Linked DNA regions of Homo sapiens. Changing the gene in region 4 together with the main gene of any one other region gives a genetic interaction. Each region holds a gene or a part of one and is shown on either strand. Other genes may lie near its edges.

Region 1 (7,335 bases), on a different chromosome or scaffold from region 4:
ATTAAAAAGAAGAAAGGAAAAGTCTCAATTGCTCTACTAGTGCTTACCATTCTTTAAAGAAAAATACCTAGTTGTCTTAGAGAATTGCTTGCTAGTAAACTTGGAAGGTTTATAATTCTGTGAGTCCAGGTAGATGATTAATGGCATGATTGAGTCATACTGTGTGCCACAGACTGTTCTAGGCACCTTTACAGGTGAGTAAACTGATACAGAGAGTTTAAGTGATTTGCATGTTACACTGCTAAGTGGCCGAGCTGGGATATAGACATAAAATGCAAGGATGATTTTTCAAGTATGAGAATTCTAGCAGAAATAAACAACAAACATCTCAAAGTAAGTTGAAGAATGAAATCTAAAGAAAAATTTGCCACCTCGCACCCCCCAATAAAATCATTACTCCTTATTGTTGATAAGTCATCTCCGTTCTGTCCCTACCTGCTATCCCTCTGTCACGATTTCTTGCTCTTCTCTGTCACACTCTACCTCGACCCATACCATATTGAACTTCTCTTAGGTCTGTGAATGCCCCTCGCCGCCTCCTCCTGGCCTTTAAACACCCTGCTCCTTCTGCCAGGAACACTTTCCTCTACCTATCCCACCCCACCCCCCATCTTCTGAGGAATCAGCTGAAACCTCTGGACTGGGTGAAGCCTTCCTTGCAGTAGGCTCCTGCCATAATCTCCTCTGCTTTACTGTGATTTGGGGTTTGTCTGTCTTCCTCACTAAATAGCAAATGAACCAGTGAGGACAGAGGCCCAGTTCTTTGACTGTCAAGTCAGTTATGCCTAGCATATAGCCAAGCCCATGGGGCTGGTCTGTAAATATTTATTGAATAAATGAACAAGTTCCTGGTTAATGCATGATTAAAGAAGGAATATATCACTGGAGTTATTACCAACCAACTTTCAGCCATTTTTTACCAGTTTTGTGGTTCTAGTCAGTACAACCACTGAAGTCACTGGGTGCTCCCAGCTTCTATTTATTTAATAGACTTCTGTCCTGATGGCAGCAGCCAACTCTCATAGAAAATTCCCTTGCTGGATCCTAGTATGACGCCTAAATGAGAGCAGGACCTCCAGGGCTCTGCTAAGGTCAGGCTGTTAAATGGTCCTTTCCTAGACTTTCTTATGTTTTTTCTGCACTCAATGACAAACACATCACTACTTGGTGCCATCAATTTACCCAGAGCCCATCCTCCTTCAACATTAGGTGTTCATTCTTTTTTTCTTTTTATTTATTTATTTTTATTTTATTTTATTTTTGAGGTAGGGTCTCACTTTGTCACCCAGACTGAAATGCAGTGGCATGATTACAGCTCATTGCAGCCTCAACCTCCTGGGCTCAAGTGATCCTCTCAGCTCAGCCTCCCATGTAGCTGGGACTACAGGCATATCCCACCATGTTTTACTAATTATTTTTTTTTAGACATCGGGTCTCACTATGTTGCCCAGGCTGGTCTCAAACTGTTGGACTCAAGCAATCCTCCCACTTCAGCTGCCTAAGGGCTGGGATTACAGGCATGAACCATGATGCCCGGCCATCTTATTTCTTATAAAAATACAGTTTAAAAGAAAGTGATGCCACAGCCATAAAAAAAGAATAAAATCGGCCGGGCGTGGTGGCTCATGCCTACAAATCCCAGCACTTTCGGAGGCCGAGGCGGGCGGATCACGTGAGGTCGGGAGTTCGAGACCAGCCTGACCAATATGGAGAAATTCCATCTCTACTAAAAATACAAAATTAGCCAGGCGTGGTGGCACATGCCTGTAATCCCAGCTACTCAGGAGGCTGAGGCAGGAGAATCGCTTGAACCTGGGAGGCAGAGGTTGCAGTGAGCTGAGATTGCAGCATTGCACTCCAGCCTGGGGAACAAGAGCGAAACTCTGTCTCAAAAAAAAAAAAAAAAGAACAAAGAACAAAATCATGTCCTTTGTAACAACATGGATGCAGCTGGGGCTATTATCCTAAGCAAATTAACGCAGAAACAGAAAACCAAATACTGCATGTTCTCACATATAATGAACATTGGGTACTCATGGACATAAAGATGGGAATGATGAACACTAGGGATTCCAAAAGGGGGGTGAGGAGAGGAAAAGTTGAAAAACCACCTGTCAGATACTACATTTACTGCATGGGCAACAGGATCATTAGAAGCTCAAACCTCAACATCATACAGTATACCCATGTAACAAACCTACATGTATACCCTTGGATCGAAAAAAAAAAAAAAAAGAAAAAGCGATGCTATTTATAAATAATGATGGTTTGTCATCTTTCAAGAGCTATTTTAATTTGAGGTGTTTTTCAAGAACGTTCAAATGAATGTCTCCCATACACTAATTTGTAGAAATTTTTAATGAAGCAGAAATTACTAGAGATGTAATGAGAATTAGAAACACATCCAAACAGGAGATTTTACATCATTCTCAATCCAAGACCAATCAAGTGATCAGAAATAAGTGAAATTATGGAAATTGTAAACATTATAAGTCAGACCTTGTGATTATATATCAAACTCTGTAACCCAGTACCAAAAAATGTACTTCTTAAGTGTTTCTAGAATGTTTTAAATGTCTCCCATGCACTAATTTGTAGAAATTTTTAATGAAGCAGAAATTACTAGAGATGTAATGAGAATTAGAAACACATCCAAACAGGAGATTTTACATCATTCTCAATCCAAGACCAATCAAGTGATCAGAAATAAGTGAAATTATGGAAATTGTAAACATTATAAGTCAGACCTTGTGATTATATATCAAACTCTGTAACCCAGTACCAAAAAATATACTTCTTAAGTGTTTCTAGAATGTTTTAAAAATATCTGGCCAGGTGTGGTGACTCATGCCTGTAATCCCAACACTTTGGGAGGCCAAGGCAGGTAGATCACCTGGGGTCAGGAGTTTGAAACGTTTGGCCAACATGGAGAAACCCCAGCTCTACTAAAAAATACAAAAATTAGCCAGGCATGGTGGCATGAGCCTTGTACTCCCAACTACTCAGGAGGCTGAGGCAGGAAAATCACTTGAACCCAGGAGGCAGAGGCTGCAGTGAGCCGAGATCACACCACTGAACTCCAGCCTGGGTGACAGAGCAAGACTCCATCTTAAAAAAAAAAAAAAAAAAAAAAAAAAAAAAAAAAAAGTCATAGTCTGTTAAAAAAAAAAAAAAAAAGCCTCGGCTGGGGATCATGGCTCACGCCTATAATCCCAGCACTTTGGGAGGCTGAGGCAGGAGGATCACTTGAGGGCAGGAGTTTGAGACCAGCCTGGCCAACATGGCAAAACCCCATCTCTACTAAAAATACAAAAATTAGCAGGGTATGGTGGCAGGCACCTATAATCCCAGCTACTTGGGAGGCTGAGGTAGGACAATCGCTTGAGCCAGGGAGGCAGAGGTTACAGTGAGCTGAGATTGTGCCACTGCACTCCAGCCTGGGCAACAGAGTGAGACTCCATTTCAAAAATAATAAATTAAAAATAAAATAATAAAAATTAAAATTTAAAATTAGCCAGGCATGGTGGCGGGCACCCGCAATCCCAGCTACTAAGGAGGCTGAGGCAGGAGAATCACTTGAACCTAGGAGGCAGAGGTTGCAGTGAACTGAGATCATGCCACTGCACTCCAGCCTGGGCAACAGAATGAGACGCTCTCTCTCATCTCAAAAAAAAAAAAAAAAAGAAAGAAAAGAAAGCCTCAGTACATTTCAAAAAGTAGAAATATTACAAATGAATGTAATACAATGCTATAAAATGGTAATTAATTACAAACTAAAAAAAAAAGTGATCCTTCCACTTGTAAATTCTGTTAAACAAAATGAAAACACTGCAAATCAGATTCTAGATGGCAGACCTCAGAGAAAAATTCATCACCTTAACACTGTTAATCATAAACATGAAAGAATGAAAGCAAATGAAGCAAGCATCTGACTGAAAAATTTTTTTTGAGACGGAGTCTCACTGTTGCCCAGGCTGGAGTGTAGTTGGTGCAATCTTGGCTCACTGCAACCTCTGCCTTCCAGGTTCAAGCAATTCTCCTGCCTCAGCCTCCCGAGTAGCTGGGATTACAGGCATGCACCACCACGCCCAGCTAATTTTCGTATTTTTAGTGGAGACAGTTTCACCATGTTGGCCAGGTGGTCTCAAACTCCTGACCTCAGGTGATCCACCTGCCTCTGCCTCCCAGAGTACTAGGATTACAGGCATGAGCCACTGTGCCCAGCCTTGACTAAATTTTTTTTGAACAAGAAAGCCAAAGGATAGTAAAAAGAATAAAGATTAAAGCAGATATTTTTTAAGTGCCTGCCTCCCTATGTGCTACAAAGTAGATGTCCGGGTTGGGGCACTAAAGTTTTAAATGTAAGCCTGAATCAAGCTATAATGCTCAGGGTTTAAACCAGTAAAGGATCTTGAAACTAAACACTGAGTTAAATTTAGTGAGTCAAGTAATTCCATCCTGGCTTATTTATCAGACAAGCACAGAAAGAGCTTAAATATTTATCAGTTTGTCCTGGCACCTGAATGTAACTGCAATTCATAGAGCTGTAATACAGAAATTCTATATTTGGGAATAGATTTGAGTCTCTTGGCAGAGATCTAATTAGCAAAGGCTTCATCATAGAACAGCATACTCAGTCTTCATGGAGCATACTGAAGCACATGTTTGTAAGCAGTCTGCTTGTGACAATATCATAATATTGGATACAGTAACCAGTCTACTTAGAAAAAGTGTGCCCTTCGGTTAACTGGAAGATAACTGGGGCAAAGAACAAAACTTCACTGGCCTGTGAGCCATCTCTGAAACTGAAACCCTTTGATAAATATAGATCAAAGAATTCACTAGAGCGTATTTGATTTCTCTTAAAAGACAATCCAGAGTAGTTGTTGCCATTTGGTATGGCTTTTTTAAAATCACTTGTCTACACTATTCAGGTGAAAGTCGGCCTGCATTTTCTTAACCTTTGGAGTCTTCATTGGCATCCTTTTTAATTTTTTTATGTTCTTCATGTTTTATAACCTTTTTTTTAACTATATATGCAACTTGAGACTTTAAAGTATTTTTAAAAATTGATCATTGTGTAAAACATTATAGTGCTTCTCTTTTTAAAAATTGCCTTATGATTTATTATTTTCCTTAAGATCAGATCTTATTATACATCCAAATCATCTGGGAAGCCTTAAGAAGTACAGATTCTTAGGCTTTCATGCCTGGAGATTCTGACTCATTATGGGTCTGGGATGGGGCACTTGTTTATTTTTAAGCTCATTGTTAGCCAGGGTTAAGAACCACTGGTCTGCACCACTACTTTCAAATTCACATTATTTGATTTTTTTTTTTTTTGAAATTTTACAGCTGGGTCTCTGGGGGTGACATCACATGTTGGCAGGTTCCTTGATGCCCCTTGAGCCACAAAACCAGCAAGTTTTTATTAGGGGTTTCAAAAGGGGAGGGGTGTACGAATAGGGAGTGGGTCACATGCTTCAAAGGCAGTAAAATATCACAACAGCAAAGAGGCAGAGTGAGATCACAAGGCCAGGGTGAAACTAGAATTACTGATGAAGGTCCATGTCGTGCTGGGCACACATTGTCATTGATAAACATCTTAACAGGAAACAGGGTTCGTGATCAGACAACCAGTCTGACTAGAATTCGCCAGGCTGGAATTTCCTAATCCTAGCAAGCCTGGGGGTGCTGCAGGAGGCCAGGGCATATTTCATCCCGTGTCTACAACTGCATAAGACAGACACTCCCAGAGTGGCCATTTTAGAGACCTACCCCTGAGAATGCATTCGTTTTCCCGGGGTTATTCCTTGCTGAGAAAAGAATTCAGCGATATTTCTCCTATTCGCTTTCTGAAAGAAGAGAAATATGACTCTGTTCTGCCAGGCCCTGCAGGCAGTCAGATTTTATGGTTATCTCCCTTATTCCCTGCAAATCGCTGTTATCCTGTTCTTTTCAAGGTGCTCAGATTTCATATTGTTCAAACACACATGCTTTACAAACAATTTGTGCAGATAACGCAATCACCACAGGGTCCTGAGGCGATATACATCCTCAGCTTACGGAGATGACGGAATTAAAAGATTAAAGACAGGCATAGGAAATTATAAGAGTATTGATTGGGGAAGTGATAAATGTTCATGAAATCTTCACAATTCATGTTCAGAGATTGCAGTAAAGACAGGCATAAGAAATTATGAAAGTATTAATTTGGGGAACTAACAAATGTCCATGAAATCTTCACAATTTATGTTTTTCTGCTGTGGCTTCAGCAGGTTGCTTTTCTCTTCTGGAATACGAAAAAGAGTAACTTTTTTATGATTGGCATATGAGAATATAGTCTAAGTACTTTGAAAACGTGTTTATAGTTCATGTAAGAGACATTCTTTGGTAATTGGGTAGCTTATGTAGATTTTAATAGGATTCCATTGTAAATGAAAGTTAATCTTAGGAATTAAATGAATCCTTAGGGAAATTTGTACTCTATCTTTACAAAATAATATCCTTTAGAAATGTCTCAACATAGGGTAGTCTAGGCTTCCAAGAGATTAAAATTAATGAAAGTTTCTGTAATGTATGTCTGCCAGTAATCTGTGGTAGTCTAGAAAGTAGGGATTATAAAAATTTGTTGTTTGCATACACGCATAAAAACTTTCCTATTATTTTTTGTATTTCTCTTATGCTTTCAGATATGCAAGAACTGTACAGGTTGCTTTGATCGACACATCCCATGTGTTTCTCTGAACTGCCCAGTACTTTTCAAACTCTCCCGAGTAAATAGAGAATTGTCCAAGGCACCATATCTCCGGCAGTTATTAGACCAGTTTTAAATTGTCAATATCACAGTATTACAGGTGCTATTTTTTTCAGTGCTTACCACTAAACTGTTGTGCATGGTGCTTTTTAACTTTCATCGAGTCAAGGATGTTCACTGTCTGTTATCTGAAGACTATGAAGACTTCTATGCTAACCGAATTAAAATGTACTTGTTGATCTCTGAATAGCTCACTTCTTACAATGTACAAATTCCTCATTCTGTCACCTTTTAAACATTGTTTTATAATGCAGGTGTTGGATTTGCTCCAGTATGTGTACCATCTTGTAAATTCATTTGAGTAGATCATGTTTACTTCCCAGTGGAAGGAGCACTGAAAACCTCTTAAAGAAAAAGCATTTGTGTGTTTTCCTTGAACTGTCTGTATCAAGACGTGTTACTTCGAGATATCCATTCACTTTATAATTTTGACTGCAAAATATTTTGTAAATACACTTTTTTACTTTTCAAACGAGCAAAATAATGTGCAATGATTTTTATACAAATGATTTTCAAGT
Region 2 (8,209 bases), on a different chromosome or scaffold from region 4:
CCAGAGAAGGGGAAGGACTTGCCCAAGGACACACAGCAAGTTGACAGGACAAAAACCCTGGTCTGATATTTGGGTCAGGCAAGGCTCCCGGCCACCTCCCAGAGGGATGGATGGATATTCAGAGAAGTAAGGTCTGTCCTTACTGAGGCAGGAAGCCAGTCGGACGGTGTAGCCCCAGTAGAGACCAGCTTTGGTGCGAGGGTCCTGCGATGATACCACTTTGCCATGGTAGGTCTTGCAGTCTGGAGGGGTAACAGAGTCTGTAAAGATGGGGTGAGGGAATGGAAGCAGGTGGCTGAACCCTGGAGCTCATCAGGCCAACCCAGGGGTTGGGGAACCTTCCAGATACCTGGGTGCTGCTGCTGGTTCAGTCGCACAGTCACCCGAAGCCCGGGCTCCAGGTTCTTGTCAATCTTCACCTCCTGGGGAGAAGCCAGAAGAAATGGGTGCCATTCCTCTCAAGATCAGCAGGGGCCACGGCTCTTCCAGATGCCACCAGGGGAGCCCCGGGGCTGGCAAGGGACCAAGGGGTCCAGGTCAACCTGCCACCCTCCACCCCTGGCACCGGCTGAACCTGCTCACAAGAGATCATTTGTGCAAAACACAGGTCACTGGCCAAACATGCACCTTTGGGGCGCTCATGGCACAGGATAGAAGTAGATGAAACTCAGTTTTCTACATTTTGGTAGCTCTGCAACTTTTTTTTCTTTTTTTTCTTTTTTAAGATGGAGTCTGGCTCTCTCACCCAGGCTGGAGTGCAGTGGCACGATCTCAGCTCACTGCAACCTCTGTCTCCTGGGTTCAAGTGAATCTCCTGCCTTAGCCTCCCGAGTAGCTGGGATTATAGATGCGTGCCACCACACCTGGATCATTTTTGTACTTTTATTAGAGACAGGGTTTCACCATATTGGCCAGGTTGGTCTCAAACTCCTGACCTCAAATGACCCGCCTGCCTCAGCCTCCCAAAGTGCTGGGGTTACAGGCGTGAGCCACTGCGCTTGGGTTGTGCTTTCTGACAGGAAGGGACTCCATACATGTAAAGGTTTCTGCCTCTGATTTGAGGAGGCTTGAGGATAAAGAGGCGGCAAATTAATGCCCTCATCCCAGCTTGGCTCTGTGCCACATGGGAGCAGCTCCAGAGTGACTTTCAACTTGTTTCTGCAGGGTTTTGTTTGGAGCATGAGGACTGTCTTCTGTTGATTTGCTTTTTAAGCAACAGTAAATTCATTCCTGGCTTTATCTATTGAGCCCCATTTTGCACAATTCTCTGGCCCAAATTTGCATCAGTGAGGGATTTCGGGCAGGTCCAGGGCTCTCCGCAACATCCATCTGCTTGCCCTCCATTGCCAGGGTGTGTCCTGGAGGTGTGTCCTAGCCCATCTTTCTGTTCCTACCTTTTTCATGCCACAGTTGACAAAGGAGCCGTGGCCTGGCCGGGTGGGCCGATCCACCACGATGCCCTCTCGGAACTCGGATTCCTCATCCTGACGCATGTGGTGGGGGCTGTCCAGGGGGTTCAGGAGCCCTGTGGAGGCAGAGCCGGGAAGAGTCTGGGAAGTGCTAGGGCACACAGGGTGCAGTGGGGACCCTGGAGCGGAGTACCGGCTCTGCCACAGACCTGCGTCTTGGCATCAGACACAGGTCTTGCTCTCCCAGGCCTGCTTTCCCACCTGGACAGCGCAGGGTAGGACTGGGTGGTCTCAGTGTCTGTGGCATGATCCAGGGGAAATGGGGGGGCGGGCCCATACAGCGTTACCTGCAAACTGTAGATCCTGGTGCTTGGGGAAGAACGCCTTCCTCAGGTACCTAGGAAAGAATGCTGACCTCAGGATGTTCCCAGGGGAAGCCGCCTCCTACCTGGTCTCCACTTTGACACACCCCTCCCTCATGCTTAGGGGAGTGACCCCCTTACTGTGGACACTCCAGGTACTGCAGGATCCGGGCCAGCTGTACGCACGCCTGCCCCTTCTTCCCAACTCCTGTGAATTCCCCCTCCACAGTCCTGGAGAGAGAGAGATGGGGGCTCAGGATCCAGCTGTGGCCCCTTCAAGAGCTCCTGTCTACAAGTGCACGCGTATAATCCCAGCTACTCAGGAGGCTAAGGTGGGAGGATCATCTGAGTGCAGCAAGTAGAGGCTGCAGTGAGCCATGACCATGCCACTGCATGCACTCCAGCCGGGGTGACAGCTGAGATACAGGTTTAGGCCTTCTGGCTCCCAATCCCACCTCTGTAGTCATCACCCCCACCTGGCAACTCTACCCACTAAGGATTACACAGGGAATATTTCAGGCAGGGCACGAGGGAAGAGCCAGGCATGTGGACGGGGCCATGGTGAAGCCTCGGCCCATCCCGGCAGCCCCTCCCTCTCCCTGAACCCTGGCACCCTGTGGGATGGCCCCTTACTTGGCATCCTGGCCCTCCTCATCAAACACCACGATCTCATCCACACAGAAGATGGCACAGGCTCTGGCAATCTGACCGGCCAAGTAGGTGCGAAGCTCCGGCGACTGAGCATTGTCCAGGATGGAGCCCGGCAGGGCTACGCTCAGTGTGTAGGGCCGCCCTGAGCAGGGGAGGGATGTTCCCAGCCAGTGTGAGAGGCAAGGGCCCCCTACCTTTCTCTCCCTTCCTCTGTCCCTAGCGCCCATGGTTTGAGAATTTCCCAAGTGGGAGGAATTTTGAGATGAGCAAAATAGATCCAGCTCCCCTCTCTGGGCCTCAGTCTCCCAGCAGTCTCCATGGCTCCTCTGAGCAGGGCAAACCACTGGGCGAGGCTGTGGAGCGGTTAGTAGCAATGGCCTAAGTTCACATCCTGGCTCTCCCACTTACTGCCTCAGTTCTCCAGCTATCAAATGGGGATAAAATGAAAGCTGATATCTAATAAGTCTTTAGTGTGTGCACATTAACCCGATAGCCATTAACCTGATCCCTAGTGAGGATACTGCCATTATCCCCATTTACAGACCAGGGGCCTTCAGCCCCGGGAAGTCAAATACATGGCCCAAGGTCACACAAAAGGTGGCTCATGCCTGTAATCCCAGCACTTTGGGAGGCCAAGGCGGGCGGATCACCTGAGTGAGGTCAGGAGTTCAAGACCAGCCTGGCCAACATGGCGAAACCCCGTCTCTACTAAAAATACAAAAATTAGCTGGGCATGGTGGCGCATGCCTGTAATCCCAGCTACTCCGGAGGCTGGGGCAGGAGAATCGATTGAACTGGGAAGTGGAGATTGCAGTGAGCGGAGATCGAGCCACTGCACTCCAGCCTGGGCAACAGAGCGAGACTGTGTCTCAAAAACAAACAAAAAAGCCCAAGAAGCACATAGATAACATGGTTTCACTGTTGTAACATTGTATCTGTACTTTGCTACACATGGATAAGTAGCTATAATTGTTTGGACAAGCTTTTGCTACAATGTTTGCTGGGATTGTTCCTGTCTTCTTTGTAGTTTTCTTTCATTTTTATTATGAAATCAAAATAATTGAAAAATGAAATTAAAGCACACAGAAAATGCTCAATAAAAAAGTCAAAAAATCAGGAAGATCATGAAGTTCTAGAGGTCTAAGTTAAGAGATATGAGGCTTGGGCCGGGCACGGTGGCTCATGCCTGTAATCCCAGCACTTTGGGAGGCTGAAGTGGGCAGATCACCTGAGGTCAGGAGTTCGAGACCGGCCTCCCCAACATGGTGCAACCACGTCTCTACTAAAAATACGAAAATTAGCCAGGTGTGGTGGCACACTTCTGTAATCCCAACTACTCGGGGGGCCGAGGGAGGAAAATTGCTTGAACTTGGGCAGTGGAGGTTGCAGTGAGCAGAGATGGCGCCGTTGCACTCCAGCCTGGGCAACAGAGCAAGACTCCATCTCAAAAAAAAAAAAAAAGAGAGATAAGGCTTGCCTTCCATAGGCTTGAAATTTACCTAAGCAGGAGGTCAGAACTCAGTTTGCTGGCTCCCTCCCTTCTCTGGGCCTCAGTTTCTCCATCAGGACAAGATGTTTGGACCTACTGGTCTGTAAAGGCCCTTTCAGATAAGACATCTCTGCTCTGCCTGCAGGACAACTACCGTGGGCCACAACCTGTGGCCCTCCCCAAGACCCCAGCTCACCGCGGTCCTCCTTCTCTGCCGCTGCCTCCTCCTCTTCCAGGCGCTTTGCCTGTTCCTCCTGTGCCCGCTGCCGCTCCAGTTTTTTCATCAGCTTGAGATCCTTCCATTTTTTTTTCTCCTCTTTCTCTGGATAAAAGAACATCCTAATTGGCCAAGGAGACAGTTCCCACTCATTGGGTCAGCCTGGACTCTGGAGAGCTGCTGGGTGAGCAGCCAGAGGGCAGCAAGGGAGCCTCCCCAGGGCTCCCGGCCCCTGCCTCCCCACTTTGTGTGCTGCAGGACCCAGAGGGAACAAAGTTGGTGTCTTTCTCCAGGGTTTGACTGAGCACTGGTGGAGTGGCCTATGGGAAGATACTCTTACCCACCCTTACTTACTCTGTTGCTTCCATTTTCGCCACTCAATCCTTTGGCCGTGTTCACCCTGGAGAAGGAGTGGTAGGAGGATTATGAGTGTGAGGCTGATGGTCACACCTGGAGGGGGTCCGTTTGCTGCACCATAGCCAGCCCCTCCACACGGGGCGGCAAGGAAGCCAAGGAACCTCTGCGAACTGCTGCCCCAGAAAGCGGCAGGAGGGCAGGGACCCGCTGTATCCCCAGCGCCTGGGACCCAGCCTGGCACACAGAAAGCACTCAAGAAACTGTCGAATGAGTTCCCACAAAACAGAAGAGAAAACTGAGGCTCAGGGTACAGCACTGCCCACAGTCGCCCTGGAAGTCAGAAAAGGGCTCCAGAAGCCACGAAAGGGCTCCGGATTCAGCATCCGGAGGCGAGCAGGGTCCCGCCTCCGTAATCCAGCGGGGGCCAGGGAGCCGCAGGGGGTTCCGGAGAGGACACGGGCGCTGTTCCCATCCTGCTGAGGCTCACGCGGCACCTTCGGGGGCTTCCGGCCTGGGATCAGCGGGAAGCAGGCAGCAGGAGGCGCGGCCCGGCCCCGGCGAAGGCCCCCACGCCACTGGTTCTCACGCCTCCACCATGCTGCCCTGCACGGGGTCCCGCCGCCCGCACTTACCGGGCCGCACGGCCGCTTCCTGCCGCGCTCCGCCATGTTCCGCACACACCGTCGGTCCCGCCTCTGCCAATGAGACTCGCCTCTTCCGGCCACACCTCCATTAAGCTGTCCAATCGGAGAGCCAATATCGCCCAGGGGCGTGGCCTGGGCGCCCGACGGGCTGCAGGGGTACGCGGGCTGGAGTAGGTTGGGCAGAGTAGGTGTCCAAATAGGCGGCATCGCGGGTACTGTGCTGAATTTTGGATGGCTCGGAGCCCCCCTCTGAGTTGGGACAAATACAACACTCAGACCTCTGAGTAGTTCACTTGTTTAAAAATAATTTTTTTTGAGACAGGGTCTCGCTATGTTGCCGAGGCTGGAGTGCAGTGGAGCAATTCTAGCTCACTGCAGGCTTGAGCTCCTGGGCTCAAGGGATCCTCCCACCTTAGCCTCCCGAGTAGCTGGAACCACAGGTGCGCAGCACCACGCCTAGCTCCTGGAAGGCTTTATACATGGGGACCCTGGGGCCTTGAGCTGTAGTGTGATTCAGAGCTGAAAATGAGATAATTTACTCCAGGTTTCTTATAGATTCGTTCACGTACTCTTTCTTTTTTTTGAGACAGAGTCTCGATTCATTGCCCAGGCTGGAGTGCAATGGCGCGATCTCGGCTCACTGCAACCTCCACCTCCTGGGTTCAAGCAATTCTCCTGCCTCAGCCTTTCAAGAAGCTGGGATTACAGGAGCGTGCCACCATGCCCAGCAAATTTTTTTGTGTGTGTTTTTAGTAGAGATGGTGTTGATGTTGGCCCCGTGTTGGCCAGCCTGGTTGAACTCCTGACCATAAGTGATCCTCCAGCCTCGGCCTCCCAAAGGGCTGGGATTACAGGCGTGACCCACTGCACCCGGCCTTTTTTTTTTTTTTTTTTTTTTTTTTTTTTTTTTTTTGAGACAGAGTTTCGCTTTTCTTGCCCAGGCTGGAGTGCAATGGCTCGATCTCAGCTCACAGGAACCTCCAACTCCTGGGTTCAAGCGATTCTCCTGCCTTAGCCTCCCGAGTAGCTGGGATTACAGGCATGCACCACCACGCCTGGCTGATTTTGTATTTTTAGTAGAGATGGAGTTTCTCTATGTTGGTCAGGCTGGTCTCGAACTCTTGACCTCAGGTGATCCGCCCACCTCGGCTTCCCAAAATGCTGGGATTACAGGCATGAGCCACCACGCCCGGCCTCGTTCTCTTTTAATTAACAGACTATATTAGTTGGGACTACAAGTGTGAGCCACCATGCCCGACTAATTTTTTTTTTTCTTTTTGTACAGATAGTGTCTCACTATGTTGCCAGGGCTGGTCTCAGACTCCAGGGTTCAAGCAATCCTCCCAACTTGGCTTCCCAAAGGGCTGAGATTATAGACTTGAGCCATTAATGCCTTTTATTTTTTGAGATCTAGTCTCACTCTGTTGCTCAGGCTGAAGTGCAGTGGCATGATCTCGGCTCACTGCAACCTCTGCCTCCCAGGTTCAAGCAATTCTCCTGCCTCAAGCTCCCAAGTAGCTGGGATTACAGGCGCCTGCCACCAAGCCCGGCTAATTTTTGTATTTTTAGTAGAGACGGGATTCTCCATGTTGGTCAGGTTGGTCTTGAACTCCCGACCTCAGGTGATCCACCCGCCTCGGCCTCCCAAAGTGCTGGAATTACAGGTGTCAGCCACCGTGCCCGGTCTCGAACTTAGATTTTTTTTTTTTTGAGACAGTCTCGCTCTGCTCTGTCGCCCAGGCTAGAGTGCAGTGGCGTGATCTCCGCTCACTGCAAGCTCCGCCTCCTGGGTTCATGCCATTCTCCTGCCTCAGCTTCCCGAGTAGCTGGGACTACAGGTGCCCGCCACTGCACCCGGCTAATTTTTTATATTTTTAGTAGAGACAGGGTTTCACCGTGTTAGCCAGGATGGTCTCGATCTCCTGACCTCGTGATCCACCCGCCTCGGCCTCCCAAAGTGCCGGGATTACAGGTGTGAGCCACCGTGCCTGGTCTCGAACTTAGATCTTATACTAAATTTGTTGTGATTTTTGACAGGTTTATTTTGTAGGCATGACTGATTAAGACATTGGCCATTTGAAAAAACAAACACAAAAATCCCCCCAAAACAACAATAACAAACAGACATGGACCATGTGATTGGGCTCAAAGTCTAGTCCCTCACACCTCCATGGAGGCAGAGATGGAGGGGGCCCGATGGGCTAAAAGTTCTGACCCCGTAATCGTACAGTGCAGAGGGATTCCATGTGACTAACAAGACATGCCTATCTTCCAGAAACTCCAAGGATTTTAGGAATTCTTTACTAAGGACCAGGGGCAAACACCAAATATGTATTTTATTATATGATATATTCCTATCAGCTCCCCCAGTTAAACATATGATATGAGCCAAACCCATGCGCTTGCTATGCAAATGCAACTTCAAGACCAGGCCCCTAACACCACCTTCCAAAGAAATTCAGGAGCTACTATTGCTATCCAGTGAGACTCAATCGGGGCCAGCTAGAAGGCCTGGGCACACCACTTCACCTCACCTCCAGAGTGCTTTCCTCTCTTGTGAACTGGAGATAACTCAGGTCTCAGTCTCAGAGGGTTGTGTAAGATGATGTGCGTCTGAGTGCCTCGCAGGTAGGGCTTGCACGATCAACATTCAGTCCTCCTCCTGAGAATTATTTAAGTCCCTGGTCCTCCTGGCCCCCACTGTGCTGTTCTCTCACCCCTGTGGGAATGTCCATGTCTTCCTTGTCACGAACCCCAATCCTCTCCACACACACACACACACACAAACACATATGACACCCCCACCCCAGCCACCACACCCAGCACCAATAACTGCTACCATCAGATTAATATGAGAGGCCAGCTATGGTGGCTCACGTCTGTAATCCCAGCACTTTGGGAGGCCGAGGCGAGCAGATGACCTGAGGTCAGGAGTTTGAGTCCAGCCCAGCCAACATGGTGAAACCCCATCTCTACAAAAACACAAAAATTAGCCGGGCGTGGTGGCAGGTGCCTGTAGTCCCAGCTACTCAGGAGGCTGAGGCAGGAGAATTGCTTGAACCCAGGAGGTGGAGGTTGCA
Region 3 (8,186 bases), on a different chromosome or scaffold from region 4:
CCGGGCACTCTGGAGAGCATCTTCTGGTGGTCCTCTATCCTTTCTGCCCCCACGCTGCACCCAGGCCGACACCAGGCCCATGCCTGAGGCGTCAGAGGAGTCCCACCCCCCCACCCCTTGGGCCAGCCGCCATGCAAGGCTGCAGGGGTGATAGGGTCCGGAGAAGGCGGGAGAGGGATCACAGCTGCTTCAGAACAGCAGTGAGGGCCTGGGTGATAAGGCCTTGGCCCAGGAGCAGGGTGGGAGGTGGGAGATTAGAGAATGCAGCTTGGAAAAGGGCCAGGGACTCACCCCTTCCCCAAGGAGATGAACCACAGCCAGGCAGAAGAGGGACCCGACTATGCCCAGGCCTGCTTCCCCCTGGCCCAGAGCCTGGGGGCATCAAGAGTTTGGACTGGGGGCTCTGCACAGGGGGCCAAGCTCAGGCCCAGCCCTTGCCTGCTGTAAGGCTCATCACTGAGCCTCAGTGCTCATATCTGCTAAACGGGGATCCCAATCCAACCACATGGGATGGTGGGGAGCGAGAAAGGACCTTTATCCATCAGGAGCGAGTGTGAGAGGTGCTCAGCATGTGCTCCCCCGCATCCCAGCACCCAGCCCACTGCAGGTGCATTCAAAGGACGGGGTAAGCCCTGTGCCAAGGGCTGCAGCAGCCTCCCAGAAGCCAGGGCCGCGCTCAAGGCCCTGTACTCTCTGAGCTCTAAAATTAGGAGAAAGGACCTTGAAGGCCTCTGGGGTCCCTTCCCGCGGTCAGATTCTCGGCTCTCTGAACACAGGCTCGGGCCGGGGGCAGCCCACGGCCTTATCTCCCAGGGACACGTCTTCCTCCTCTTGCCTCCTCCCCCTCCCTCACCAGGGCTCCCCACACCCCCCTTCCTTCCCGCTTTTAACTCTTCTTCGCTTCAAGAAAGCCCATGGGGAGGCCAGACCCTAGGGGGAGAGGAGGGGACCCAGTGAGCAGGAGGAGGACTGGGGGTGTGGGGTTCCCCTTGCACTTTGTTTTGAGGGGGCCTGTGAGGGTCATGGTTTGCCTATCAAAATATCAAAAGATGATCCTTTTTTGCGCATAATATTTATGAGGAAATCAACTAGAACCAAAGGTACTCGCCAAGGCTTCTGTGATAGAAGAGGAGCTGGTCAAACCTTCTGGCAGGGGGCTGCTTAGCCTGCCTTGTTTATTACACCTTTAATTCTGATGCTTAATCCAGATGCTGAGTCCCGCTGCTGTCCCATTTTATAAAGAAGGAGCTGAAGCCTGGAGGGCTCAGGACCCTGGGGCAGAGTGAGCAGGGAAGGACTGGGGTCTGTCTGGCCCCAGGCCTCCATGCTCTTGACTTTCAGCCCAGCAGGTGGGCAGTTACTCGGTGCAGAATGGGTGCCAAGTGCTGGGCAGTGCCCGGCATGGGCTTCTCTCTGCAGAGGGAGTGGAGCCGACGTGCTAGGGATGAAAACAGCAGTTTGAAGCTCCCTCGTGTGCCCGTGTCAAGCAGTGTCTTCCCAGGTTGCAGGTGGGAAAACTGAGGTGCAGAGAGGAAAGTGACTCAGACCCAGGGCTCCTGGCCTGTTAGGATTTTACTCTCAAGCCACTGTGCCACCCAGCACTGTCAGAGGTCCTCACAGCACCCGGTGAACACCGCCTGCAGCACAGAGGGAAATGCAGGGTGCTGGGGCAAGAGGGGAGAAAAATCAGGCCGGGTGCAGTGGCTCACACCTGTAATCCCAACATTTTGGGAGGCCGAGGCGGACGGATCACAAGATCAGGAGTTCGAGACCAGCCTAGCCAACACAGTGAAACCTCGTCTCTACAAAAAATACAAAAATTAGCCGGGCATGGTGGCACTTGCCTACAGTTCCAGCTACTCAGGAGGCTGAGGCAGGAGAATCGCTTGAACCCGGGAGGCGGAGGTTGCAGTGAGCCGAGATCACACCACCACTGCACTTCAGCCTGGGTGACAGAGCCACACTCTGTCTCAAAAAAAAAAAAAAAAAAAAAGGAGGGAGAAAAATCAAACCCTCTGACCCTCAAGTCTTTTCCAGGCTCCTAAAAGACCCACATGGCTCCTGAAGAGTCTTGGTGGGGCCAGGCCAGGGACAGACTTCCCTTCAGGAAGCATTGGTATTCTCCTGGGCTCAGGGCCTAAGGAGAACCCAGGTCAACTGACTCTAACCCTGGGCCCCACAACAAGGACACTTTCTAGCGCTCATGAGCCCTGGCCAAGCACTTTTCACTTAGGCACAGGGCAAGATGGGGCTGGCTTCTGGGGTTCTCCAGCCTCAGGAAGGTGATTCTCATGCTTCTTCTAGTGATCTCCCCTGAGCCCCACACCCGCTTTCTTGCCTCCCCCCAGTGTTCTCTCCCCTGAGCTTGGCAAGTGACAGTGACACAGCCAACGCCACGGCCAAGCCCTCTGGCTCACAGAGGGGCCAAATGCACCCGGTGAACTTCCTTTTGGCCCCTGTTAGCAGAGTTGTTTTTTTTTTAAAGAAAAAACAGGAACCAATCACCTATACTGTAGTTAATTAACAACCACTTGGTTTTGATTGACATGAACTCCGTTCTGAGAAGGAGCTAAGAGCAGAGATTATGAAAGAAGCTCAGGAATTCTTCATAAAACAGAGGACTTGATGGTATCGGACCTCCGGAAAGAGGCTCACTGTTATCACTCCATAACCCCCGATCCTGATAGAGTCCCCCTGACCCTGAGTCAGAATCTCAGTCAGTGCTTCTTGAAGACAGGCGACCCTGCACCCTGGCAGGAGCCAGCACCCTAACTTCCAGTTGGACTTGGGTCAACAGGCCTGTGATGTCCCTGTAATGAGGCCCCTTTGTTGCCCAAGGAGTTGAGTCTGATTTGGGGTCCTGGAGCTTGTGACCGCATCAGCCACCAACCTGGGGCTTGGTTTTCCTATCTCTTAAAAGGGACGGTTGGGCTAAGAGATTTCTAAACTTCCCTTTTGCTCTAAAATCCCATGTAGAATTCGTTGACCTTCAGTGAGAGATTGAACCACCTTGACTAAAAGACTTGTCACTCGGGTTCCCCTTTTGGGAGGGTTGGGTAAGACTCAGCTGGTTCTCAGGGTCAGCTACAGAGAACCTTTTTGACTTCCTTTATGTTTAAAGACTCAAGGGAGGCCGGGCGTGGTGGCTCACGCCTGTAATCCCAGCACTTTGGGAGGCCAAGGCAGGCGGATCACCTGAAGTCAGGAGTTCAAGACCAGCCTGGCCAACATGGGGAAACCCCGTCTCTACTAAAAATACAAAACTTAGCTGGGTGTGGTGGCAGGCACCTGTAATCCCAGCTACTCGGGAGGCTGAGGCTGGAGAATCACTTGAACCCAGAAGGCGGAGGTTGCGGTGAGCCCAGATGGCGCCACTGCACTCCAGCCTGGGTGACACAGCGAGACTCTGTCAAAAAAAAAAAAGATTCAAGGGGAAAACAAGACTTGTCCGTGGAGGAGTCGGGGGAAAATGAGCCCAGGTCAGGCCCAGGGGCCCCAGCAGAAAGTAATCATCATCATCATCACCATCATTATTATTATTATTTTGAGACAGAGTCTCACTCTGTCACCTGGGCTGGAGTGCAGTGGTTTGATCTTGGCCCACTGTAACCTCCACCTCCCAGGCCCAAGCGATCCTCCCATCTTAGCTTCTCGAGTAGCTGGGACTACAGGCATGCACCACCACAGTTGGCTAATTTTTGTATTTTTTGTAGAGACGGGGTTTTGCCATGTTGCCCAGGCCGGTCTAAATCATCATTTTTATTTGAAATTTAGAAGGAGTTCTCAAATGTCTCCTCCAAAGCTCAGAGAATGCAATGTCAAAAGTGAGTGAATCTACTTCTGGGTATAGACCCAAAATCATTGGAAGGGGAGACTCAAAGAGATATCTGCATACTCATGTTTATAGCAGCACTATTCACAATAGGCAAAAAGTGGAAGCAACCCAGGTTTCATGGCAGATGAATGTCCAAACAACATGTGGTCTATGGCCAGACTTAGTGGCTCACACCTGTAATCCCAGCACTGTGGGAGGCCGAGGTGGGCAGATCACCTGAGGTCAGGAGTTCCAAGACAAGCCTGGCCAAAATGGCGAAACCCCACCTCTACTAGAAATACAAAAATCAGCCAGGCATGGTGGTGGGTGCCTGTAATCCCAGCTACCCAGGAGGCTGAGGCAGGAGAATCGCTTGAACCCGGGAGGCAGAGGTTGCAGTGAGCCAAGATCGCACCATGGCACTCCAGCTTTGTGACAGAGACTCTGTCTCAAACAAACAAACAAACAAACAAAATGTGGTCTAGACATATGATTGAACATTATTCGGCCTTAAAAAGGAAGGAAATGCTGGCGCATGCTACAACATGGATGAACCTGAAGGATTTATGCTAAGTGAAATAAGCCAATCACAAAAGGACAAATACTGTGTGATTCCTTATATGAGTCCCTAAAATAGGCAATTTCATAGAGACAGAAATAGATAGAGGTTGCCAGAGGTGAGGGGAAGGGAATGGAAGTTACTGTGTAATAGGTATGAAGTTTCAGCTTTATGAGATGAAACAGTTCTGTGGATGGATGGTGGTGATGGTTGCACAGCCATGTGGGTGTACTTAATACCATTGAATGGTACGCTTGAAAATGGCTAAAACGGGAAATTTTATGTTATATGTATTTTATCAAAATAAAAAGACAAGTGAGTGAATGAAACTCTTTCTGCATATCTCTATATTATAGACTAAAGCAGCTCCCATTGGCTTGAATTCCTGGCAAGGAACACACGAAAAGCCTCCCTCTAGACTAAGAGGGGGTGGTGTTTGCTGATGTTTCAACCAAGGGTCTGGATATTGTGGCACAGACAGTGAAGAATCCCATTTGATCAGGCTGTTTTCCCTGGGTGATCTGGAGCCATCTGGTCCCAGAGCCTTTGAAAATCCTTGTACTGTCCAATAAGATTCCCACCCACCCTACCCTGCCCCGCTGAAAGCTTCGGGGCAATGGTCTGCGCTGGTTTTGAGTGATTCCATTAATCAAACCGAAACCAGGTATAGCTCTCCAATGTTCCCCAAGAACTCTCTTCAGGAAGACCAAACTCTGACAGAAAGAGCAAGGGGAATTACGCATTTTCTTGTCCAAAGAATTCCTTCTGCAATACTTCCGAGGACAAGAAACTTGACACTTTGCTAGACTTGGAAGAAATATTCTGCCTGTTGCCTACTAAGAAACATGCAGGCGCGTCCAGGCGGTCAGGTGCAGCTCAGCTGGCTTCTAATATCTACCAGACTCATGCCCACAGATTGTAATCGAATTTACTCCCTAAGAACTCGTGAAAGCTCTGGACTTTCTCCCCGGAAAAATGTACACGGGCACATACCCACGGCGATTCTGCAGACCTCCTCTTCACAAGTCCTGTTTTAGAGTGAGCATGTCTCCTCAGATGCCTCAACACTTAAACTTGGTTTTTTTTCTCCAAAAATAGGTGGAAAGGGCTAACAACAGCCACAGGGAAAGGCGAGCTGAAACAGTACCTCTCCATGGTCGGTCCTATTGTTCCTGGAGCCTGGGCAGTGTGTGGGAGAGGGCAGCCCTGTCATCTCCCCTTAGTAGGCTCTGGAGGGGAGAGCGCCTGACTCTCAAAGTGTCCTGGGAATTTGGCTGGGCGCAGTGGCTAATGCCTGTAATCCCAACACTTTGGGAGGCTGAGGCAGGTGGATCGTTTGAGGTCAAGAGTTCGAGACCAGCCTGGCCAACATGGTGAAACCCGTCTCTACTAAAAATACAAAAATTAGCCAGGCGTGGTAACACGCGCCTGTAATCCCAGCTACTTGGGAGGCTGAGGCAGGAGAATCGCTTGAATTCGGGAGGCAGAGGTTTCAGTGCAATCGCACCACTGCGCTCCAGAGTCTCACTCTGTCTCAAAAAAAAAAAAAAAAAAAAAAAAAAAAGTGTCCCAGGAACTTTAGTCAAGTCCCTAAAGTCTGGGACTGTCTCCGAGGGGGAACACAACTCAGGCACTTGGAAGTGTGTCTCCCTGAGCACTGCCCAGGTCCCCAGGACAGCTGGGTTGTGGGTATGACTTTGTGCCCGAAGGTGACGTCTGTCAGCCTAAAATCAAATTTTGAAAAGTGTTTCTGCGCAGCCGGCAAAGGCGCAATTCCTAGCACAGTGGCTCAGACGAGGCTACGTCCTCACCCTGTTTCTCCCTTGGCTCCTTGCCTTCCAGAGCTTTTCCAGCCCACCTCACCTTTCCTAGGACCGCAGGAGGAGCCAGGGAGCCTGCTGTGAAGCCACCTGCGGCGCACAGGCACATTTCAAAACAAAAGCGTAGAAACGCATCCTCCAGCACTCACCTGTCCGGAGCTGTCCCTCGCCTGGGTTCTGCCGGAGCTTCCCGAGGTGGGAACTGCAAAGCCTCTCTCGGGACTGGCCTCCACTCTGTCAACTGTGTGACTCTTTGCACAAATAGATACTTCTCCTTTTTGCTCTGTCTCTCTGTGTGTTTTTCCTCTTCTGTTCCCCTCCCTGATTTTCAATCTGATTATTTGTGTCAAAATCTGGCGGTGAACAAGCAGCCAATGAAGAGAGCGCGGGAGCTCAGCCGTATTTGCTTATCAAAACTTTCCAGGACACAAGACTTCGAATTCTCATTTCTAACCCTCGACACTTGGAGCGGCACGCTTTCTCTCTGCAGAGAAATTCAGAATTTCGCTGGAAATTTTGAATAACATCTGCACAAAAAGAAAGTGATGGCTAAATTATTAAATTTTAAAAATTAAAGTTAGAAAAAGCTCTAACTTATAAAACTCGATTTTGCATAGGGAAGTCATTGCTCTTTGGTTTTTTTCTTCTTTCTTTTCTCTTGCCTTTTTTCTTCCTTCCCTCCTTCCCTCCTTTTTCCTTCCTTCTCTTCCTCCTTTCTTTCTTCCTCCCTCCCTGCCTCCTTCCTTCCCTTCCTTATTTTCCTTCTTCCTCCCTCCTTCTTTCCTTCCCTCCCTCCCTCCTTCTCCTCCTCTCCTCTCTCTCTCTTCCCTCCTTTCCTCCCTCCTTTTTTCCCTGCCTCCCTCCTCGCTGCCTCCTCCCCTCCCTCCCTCCCCAAGTTCAGCACCCTGAGGCTTGTGAGAGCCAGGCTGGTGCAATGCCCCTAGTACCCGAGCCGGCCACATGCATAGAGGCCCCTCTTGTCCTTGCAGAGGTCATATCTCAGAAGAGACATCAAATTTGCATTTCCCCCAGATATGACCTTTGAGCGGGTAGAGGCACCCTGGAGGTGTGGCAGTGAGTTCGGAGGCCAGGAGACGCTCGGCCTGCTGAAGCTGCCATACAGATTGAAGGCCAGGTGCCAGAGCCCGTGTGTGCTGCCCTCTGGTGGCAGACAAAGTGATGGGGAGGCCAGTGGGGGCCTCTGGGGTGTCCCATTGATGCTGGGGGGAGTGAGGGCGGTAAAGCTTGGCTGAGCTGGCTGGGGCATTTCTTCCCATTTGGCAGGGCGTCCCATCCCCTGGCTCCCCACCTTCTCCCTCCTCCTCTGGCCCCCGCCTCCTCCCGCTTGCAGGATGACTGATTTATTTCAGGAGGTTTTGCATAAGATGAGAACGCCACAAACAGAGCACTGTTAGGCTGCTTTGTCTGCTCTTCCAGCCCGGGTGCTGGAGATATTATGTTTCCCTCATAAAGAAAACAAGTCTGGTGACAGGAAGCCCCAATTTAAACTGCAAGTCCAAGGTTCAAAATGAAGAAAAAGGGGTGTTTCAGGCGAGGTCTTTCTGCTGGGCCAGCCCTGGAGCACCAGCCAGGAGGACACAACCCTGTGGTCACCAGGCCTCAGTAATGCTGGGGTGTCAGTCCCAGCCCCAGGCTACAGACAGCAGACCACTGCTCCCAGCTCTGTGGTCTCTCTTGGTGGAAAGAAACATCTTTTTAAAAAATTATTATTGGCTGGGCACAGTGGTTCACGCCTGTAATCCCAGCACTTTGAGAGGCCGAGGCAGGCGAGGATCACTTGAGATCGGGAGTTCAAGACCAGCCTGACCAACATGGAGAAACCCCATCTCTACAAAAAATACAAAATTAGCTGGGTGTGGTGGCACATGCCTGTAATCTCAGCCACTTAGGAGGCTGAGGCAGGATAATTGCTTGAACCCAGAAGGCAGAGGTTGCGGTGAGTCCAGATCGCACCATTGCACTTCAGCCTGGG
Region 4 (7,492 bases):
TGAGTCAATTAAACCTCTTTCCTTTTTAAATTACCCAGTCTCAGGCAGTTCTTTATAACTGTGTGAGAATCGACTAATACAACTGGGTTCTCTACTTTTTAGTTATTATTATTTTTTTATTTACTTTTTTTGGGGGGTGGTTCTCCACCTTACTCTGTCACTTTGTAGTGAGGTATCAAGCAAACCACCAACTATCTTCATGTCTTTACTTCCTCATCTGTAAAATAGCAACATCATCTGTCTACAGACAGGTAAATGTTGTGAAAAGTCCTACATATATGATATATTCAAACTATGGAATTGTCTATAATAATTAAAAACATTAGGTAGACCTACAGGTACTAAAAGAGAAAGAGCTCCAAAATAAATCACTAAATAACAAGTCTCAGAATACATCAAGTCTTTTTTTTGAGACAGAGTCACAGTTACCTAGGCTGGAGTACAGTGGCATGATCTCGGCTCCCTGTAATCTCCACCTCCTAGGTTCAAGTGATTCTCATGTCTCAGCCTCCCAAGTAGCTGGGATTACAGGCATGCACCACCACGCCCAGCTAATTTTTGTATTTTTAGTAGAGACTAAGTTTCGCCATGTTGCCCAAGCTGGTCTTGAACTCCTGACCTCAAGTGATCCACCCACCTCAGCCTCTCAAAGTGCTGGGATTACAGACGTGAGTCATGGTGCCCAGCCCAGAATACATCAAGTTTGATCACATTTATATGACAAAACCGTGTATGTGTACCTATCTGCAAATGTACTGAAAAAGATCTAGAAAAATACACACCATTAACAAGTCTTATCTCTGGGAAAAAGAATAAGTTACTTTTTTGGTTTGTTTTCTGAGACAAATGGTTGGCAGAAGTATGAAGAAGGGCTTTTACTTTCTATTTTATTTCTGTATTTGAGCTTTATTAATAATAAATTTGTGTTCATATACTAATTTTGAAATTAGAAAAAAAGTCATGTATATAAAAAACTAAGCCATAGTATTTTGAGGGGAAAAAAAAAAAAAAAAAATATATATATATATATATATAAATACAGTACAGGTCCATTTTCTTAAAAGTTGAATTTCCATGTAAATACACATGTATGTGTACTCTTGGAAGAAAACCTAAAGGATGACAGACACTAAGATGCACACAGGTTTTCTGGGGGAGGCAGTATTAGTATAATTTTCATTTTCTCTTTCCAAATCTATGTTTTCCTAAATTTTCTAACATGTATTATTTGAGTAGGAAAACAATTTTAATTTAACAATTTTAAGGCAAACGGTTATTTTTTTTAAAGAGCATTTTAAAGCTACTGCTTCATTCTCCAAATATTAATCACTTTGCATATGCATTAACCCATAAATGACAAAGTCATCACGATAGAAAACAAAAACAATTTGCTTTGTTATTCACTCTGCAAAACATTCTGTCTGCCTTCGAATCCCTTATGCTTATTAGTTTGAAAGGCCTACAAAAACTCAATTTAAAAATTTTTTTTTCATATAGTCTAAACACATTACCCTCCAAAAACTCTTCCAAAATCCATTATTCCTATGACAATCAATTCAAACAAAAGCCATTTATATGCCCGATGTAACTAAATTGGGAAATAAATAAGAATGAAAAACATTTAAAAAAAAAAATCATAGTTGGAAAAAAGCCTTAATGAGAAAGAAAATTACCTAATCTAGGTGTGTTAAGTCCCTAAAATAAGATCAACTAATAATAGTAATTCCTACCAGGTACTGAAATGCTTTCATTGTGCCAAGCAACTTCCAGGTTACTATATATATTATCTTACGAAGTTTTTTCCCAAAATAGTTTTGTGAGATAGGCCATTTTAGCCCCATTTGTAATAAATGAGTTTAAGAAGTTAAAATGACATATCTAACTTCTGAAGATCCAGAAGGTGAACCTAAACCCTTCTGCCTTCAAAGCTACTTTACATCTTTTCACTTACTTTGCAATCTTCTCCTTGAGAACCTTCCAGTCCCATAGGTCTGTAGGAGTAACATTCCACATATCATACTGAAGAATCTAAGGAATACACAACTCAAATTTATTCTACAGCAAGTTAAAACTATGACCAAAAAAAAAAAAAACCCACAAATGACTAGCTGCCATGTCCCCACATCCCAACAAATGCTGTCTTCTAATCAACCTCTATGAGGAATACAAGCTCCAGAGATTTTCCTGGACAAAATTCCATGTAGTCATATTGATCAGAAGCAGGCTAAGAAAACTGATTATCCCATGTCATATCTACAAACCAGAAAACTCTAACATTCATAAAAGGGTGTGGCTGACACATTCTCTTTTTTTAACACTAAAAATGTTACTTTCTTCAGTGCCTTCATCTGTCCCTTGATCTGTTTACTTAGCTAAAAACACCTATTTTCTAATAACCACACATTAGATTTTCTAATATCAGCAGGAATGTCAGAAATGAAATTAACATTTTATATAGTAAAGAATCATAGTACTGATAATAAAGGCAGTGGGAAAGGCAGAATTCTAAGACAGCTTCCCAGATTCCCACACCTTGGTGCACAGGCTATTTATAATCTCCACTTGAGTATGGACATGACTTGAGAATAGGATGCATGTCACTCCAGCGATTATGGCAAAGGTGAAAGGTTTCTGCAGATGTAATTAAGGTTGCAAATCAGCCGATTCTGAGTTAAATAAAAGGAAGATTACGCCAGGTGCAGTGATTCATGCCTGTAATCCCAGCACTTTGGGAGGCCAAGGCAGGCGGATCACTTGAGGTCACAAGTTCAAGACCAGCCTGGCCAACATGGCAAAACCCCATCTCTACTAACTCGGGAGACTTGAGGCAGCAGAACTGCTTCAACCTGAGAAGCAGAGGTTGCAGTGATCTAAGATCACACCACACACTCCAGCCTGGGTAACAAAGTGAGACTCTGTCTCAAAAAAAAAAAAAAAAAAGCGGGACAGGGGGGTGGTGAGGACATTATCCTATGTGGACCTAACTTATCAGGTGAAAACCCTCAAAAGAGACTAGACTGTGCCCCTTTTGAAACGAGAGATGGTCTCTCCCACTGGCCTTAAAGAAGCAAGATGCCATGAGTCCTTGAAATATATTCTGCCAACAACCAGGTAAGCTTGGAAGAGAACTCTGTGTCTCAGACGAGATCACAGCCCTTACCAACATCTTGAACACAGACCCAGAAAAGAAGGCCCAGCTAAGCTAAGTCTGGACTCCTGACCTGTGGAAACTGTGAGATAACGAATGCCATGTTTTAACCCACAGAAAACTAACATTGGCAGCATCCCTCTTACATTATTTTAGCAATGACTAGTTCTAAATAAGAGATTAAAACAGAGTATCCTTTTTACTCCAGAGGACAAAGGTATTTAAGTTTCCTATGGCTGGTGCAACAAATTACTAAAAACTTGGTAACTTAACAAAAATTTATTCTCTCATAGTTCTGAAGACCAGAAGCCCAAAATCAACATGTTGGGAGGGCCACACTCCCTCCAGAGGCACTAGAAGAGATTCTGTTCCTTGCCTCTTATAACTTCTAGTGGTTATCAGCATTCCAAGGCTTGTGGTTGTAACACTCCAATTTCTGCCTCCATAGTCACGTTGCTTCCCCTTCTGTGCCTCTTGCAGGACAACTGTCATTAGATTTAGGGCTCACCTGGATAATCCAGGTAAATCTCCTTATCTCAAGGTTCTTAATTACATCTGCAAAATACCTTTTTTTGAACCAAATGAAATTAAATTCACAGGTTCCAGGAATTAGGATGTGGACATATCCTTTTGTGGGGTCACCATTCAGCCCACTACAGGTACTCACAGGCAAAAACAATTCCATCCATATACTTACTCCTTTGCTAACTGGAGAGCCCTCATAGGTTTCGTATGGGCCCTGCTCCTTGGCAAGGTCACAGCTGGCTTCCAGAGCACCATAATAAATAGTTTCAAAGATCTGCTTATTCAGTAACTGGGCTTCTGCACTCTCAAAAGGGTATCTCATCAGGATAAAAGCATCTGCCAGACCTTGTACCCCAATTCCAATGGGGCGATGGCGTTTATTTGATAGGCATGCCTTTGTGTCAACAGATTTTAAAGAAAAGGAGAAAACATTACTGAACAGGAAAAGCAACATTCTGTACCAAATGAGACAGACTACCTCTTTTTCTCAAACCATTTTATTGATAACCATTTAAATGATGACTTGAAGATCATGATTGATTCCTTTCAATTTGGATTTCAATAATTACCAATAAGCAGAGAAATCTATTCATACCTCTGGTACAGGATAGTAGTTTATATCAATAATTTTATTCAAGTTTCGGACAACGACTTTAGTGACTTCAGCCAACTTCTTAAAGTCGTATGTGTGTTCTGATGTGACATACATATTCAGGGCCAGGGAAGCCAAATTACAAACAGCAACCTGGAATGCAAAAAACAGGTCAAGAATCACACAATTTTTATTTCTACTTCCTGTGTCAATTACACCACCATGTGAGCCTCTAATACTCAGACATTAAAATTTTAAATTTTTATATTTGACTTCTCCCTCTTCATCATTCATCAGTCCATTTCTAAATCCCACTGATTCTATTTCTTCAATACCTAGTCATATGTGTTAGTTATAACATGCATCAGCAAAATAGGTAAGAGAGAGAGAGAACCCTATGTTCCACAGTACACAGCTCTATTACCAGACATATATCACACTATGTTATAATTAGCTTTTTACATATACCTATCTCATTATTCAGTAGATGAGTGCCCTGCAATATGGTAGCCACTGGCTACATATATCTATTTAAAATGAAATAAAATTTGAGTTTCTCAGTTGCACTAGTCATATTTCAAGTGCTCAATAGCCATCAGATACAGAACATTTCCATCACTGCAGAGTTCTTCAAAACACACACGTCCACCTCACCTTCACTGATATTCTGACAAGCCCTTAGCAACAATGGATCTCAATTTGTGATTTCTGAAAAAGCTCTTCCAGTGATTTCTCCACTACACGAGGCAGTGAGCTTCTTCACACAAGGATCATCTTATTTATATTTATATGTTTAGCACTAGCAACACATCTGGCACACAGTAAGTCTTGATAATGTTGAATGAATACACTTTCTTTTCCATTTTGATTATGACTATCCCAAGCCAAAGTCTTAACTTCTCTCACATGGACTACTGAAAGTTTCCCAGTTGAACTCTTGATGCCCTTCACATCTACTCCATTCTACACATGTTGCCAAATACCCATTTTTTTAAATATAGCTTGAATCACAGAAGTCTAATAAATGCCAGGAAGAAAAATAGGCAGGAAAAGAAGACAGAGAGTACTGGGGATAAAGATGAAGGGGGTATAATTTTTAAACAGAATTGTCAAGAAGGACCTCATTGAAAATGTTACATATGAACAAAGAACTGAACAGGTTAGAAAGCAAATCATGTGGCTATGGGAAGAGGGGGTGCATTTTAACATTCAAGAGGGAAGAAGGAGCAAAAATCCTGAGGTAGGAGCATGGTTGACATGTTTGAGAAAAAGCAAGAAAATTAATAGGGTTGGAGCAAAGTGAACAAAGGGGAAAGTAACCGCAGATGAGGTGGGTTATCCAGTTGTGTAGGACCTTGTAGGGCACTGTAAGAACTCTGGATGGAAAGGAATGAAGTACTGATACATGCTACAACATGAATAAAAGAACATGTTAAGTGAAAGAAGCCTGACACAAAAGGCCACATATTATATGACTCCATTCCTATGGAATGTCCACAATGTCCACAAATCTAGAGACAGAAAATATATTAGTGGTTGTCAAGGGCTGAGGGAAGAAGGGAACAGGGAGTGACTGCTAATGGATAAAGGGTTTCATTATCTACAGTGATAAAAATGTACTACAGGCCGGTCACGGTGGCTCACGCCTGTAATCCCAACACTTTGGGAGGCTGAGGTGGGCGGATCACGAGGTCAAGAGATTGAGACCATCCTGGCCAACATAGTGAAACCTCGTCCCTACTAAAAATACAAAAATTAGCTGGGTGTGGTGGCACGCGCCTGTAGTCCCAGCTACTCGGGAGGCTGAGGCAGGAGAATCGCTTGAATCCAGGAGGCGGAGGTTGCAGTGAGCCGAGATCGAGCCACTACACTCCAGCCTGGTGACAGAGCAAGACTCTGTCTCAAAAAAAAAAAAATAAAATAAATAAATACTACAATTAGATAGTGGTAATGGTTGCACAGACTTGCAGATATACTAAAAAAAAGAAAAGAAAAGAAAAGAAAAAAAACACTGAATTGTACATTTTAAAAAGAGTGAATTATAGCTCAATTTGCAAAAAGAAAGAACTCTGTTGAGGTTGCAGTGAGCCACAGCCCAGCTTGGGCAACAGAGTGAAATCTTGACGCCCCCCGAAAAAAAAGGAATTCTGCATGGGTTAGCAAGCCAAAGAGTAGTTTTGTGCAGACAAATGACATTATCTGATTTTTATTTTAAAAATGTCACTCTAGCCTCTATAATATAATCTGTCTTGCATAATAGTTACCTCAATATATGTCGATGTCTTCCAACTAAATTAGAAGTTTCCAGAGGGCAGCATATTTATTTATATTCTCAGAGCACTTAACATTGTGTTTTACATATAGCTACTGCACAATAAATTTTGAATTAAACTGTAACCTTAGCAGTATATTTAACTCACTTTCCATTTACTTCCTGACTTTTCATTTGTCTTTTTTTTTAAGGTCCTAGAATTGAGGATCTACTCCTTCCTCGTTTCCATAGTTTACATCCAAGATCAAAGCAGCCTGTCATCCAACTAGTACAACAATCTCCCTAGGCTAACCTCTAATCCCTTCTCACAGCAAGACACTCTGTAACCAGAAGCAAGAACCTTCCTTTTCATCTTAACATTTTGATGCTATTTTCCTCTCAGAAACCTACAAGGGCTACCTATCCGTGACGTGTCAGCTTCTACCTTCTATCTCCCTTCCCCCAGCCATAGCCATCTCTCCATATTCCAATAATTAATCTACTTGCACCATCAAAACAGACTTACTTGCCACACTGCATAAAACCCAGCCCTGTCTCTGGTGTATCATACAGACCACTCTTTCCAAATGGAAAGCTCCTCTCTCAAACTTTTTTTTAAAACACCAAATCCATGTCCCATTTCTAGCCTTGATTCTTCTGTGAAGTCTCTTTACAGACTTGAGATTAGAATTTGATCTCACCATTCACTGAAAGGACTCTCTTTATAAGCTTACATACTTTTGTTGTTGTTGTTTTTGGTTTTTTGTTTGTTTGTTTTGAGACAGGGTCTCACTTTGTCGCCCAGGATGGAGTACAGTGGCACAATCTCAGCCCACTGCAGCCTCCACTTTCCAGGCTCAAGGCTTACATAGTTTAAATTGAATGTACATCCTAACACATTTTTGTGTGTGTCCTAAACTAACATAACTGTATATTTCTATTTTTCTTGAGTAAATGTTATTACAGTGATGTGTGT

What was found.
Region 1: changes in RRM1 (region 4) and REV3L impair growth when combined (synthetic growth defect), as found in Homo sapiens cells (one large-scale study listed by BioGRID).
Region 2: changes in RRM1 (region 4) and SPOUT1 together harm fitness less than expected from each alone (positive genetic interaction), as found in Homo sapiens cells (one large-scale study listed by BioGRID).
Region 3: changes in RRM1 (region 4) and GFI1B together harm fitness more than expected from each alone (negative genetic interaction), as found in Homo sapiens cells (one large-scale study listed by BioGRID).

Annotation. Positions count from the first base shown.
Region 1 is NC_000006.12:111,299,514-111,306,848, reverse strand, and holds part of REV3L (DNA polymerase zeta catalytic subunit), read left to right. Parts: intron 1-6,692; coding exon 6,693-6,833; 3' UTR 6,834-7,335. UniProt on the Homo sapiens protein: Catalytic subunit of the DNA polymerase zeta complex, an error-prone polymerase specialized in translesion DNA synthesis (TLS). Lacks an intrinsic 3'-5' exonuclease activity and thus has no proofreading function.
Region 2 is NC_000009.12:128,824,628-128,832,836, forward strand, and holds the start of SPOUT1 (28S rRNA (uridine-N(3))-methyltransferase), read right to left. Parts: upstream 5,154-8,209; coding exon 5,118-5,153; intron 4,529-5,117; coding exon 4,483-4,528; intron 4,234-4,482; coding exon 4,108-4,233; intron 2,565-4,107; coding exon 2,405-2,564; intron 2,003-2,404; coding exon 1,913-2,002; intron 1,807-1,912; coding exon 1,757-1,806; intron 1,526-1,756; coding exon 1,395-1,525; intron 423-1,394; coding exon 350-422; intron 243-349; coding exon 144-242; intron 1-143. Other genes in the region: KYAT1-SPOUT1 (uncharacterized protein LOC127739546), read right to left, coding at 144-242, 350-422, 1,395-1,525, 1,757-1,806, 1,913-2,002, 2,405-2,564, 4,108-4,233, 4,483-4,528 and 1 more. UniProt on the Homo sapiens protein: S-adenosyl-L-methionine-dependent methyltransferase that specifically methylates the N3 position of a uridine in 28S rRNA. Required for association of the centrosomes with the poles of the bipolar mitotic spindle during metaphase.
Region 3 is NC_000009.12:132,976,998-132,985,183, reverse strand, and holds the start of GFI1B (zinc finger protein Gfi-1b), read right to left. Parts: upstream 6,491-8,186; 5' UTR 6,343-6,490; intron 5,909-6,342; exon of another isoform or gene 5,367-5,908; intron 1-5,366. UniProt on the Homo sapiens protein: Essential proto-oncogenic transcriptional regulator necessary for development and differentiation of erythroid and megakaryocytic lineages.
Region 4 is NC_000011.10:4,123,610-4,131,101, reverse strand, and holds part of RRM1 (ribonucleoside-diphosphate reductase large subunit), read right to left. Parts: intron 4,419-7,492; coding exon 4,269-4,418; intron 4,068-4,268; coding exon 3,846-4,067; intron 2,029-3,845; coding exon 1,952-2,028; intron 1-1,951. UniProt on the Homo sapiens protein: Provides the precursors necessary for DNA synthesis. Catalyzes the biosynthesis of deoxyribonucleotides from the corresponding ribonucleotides.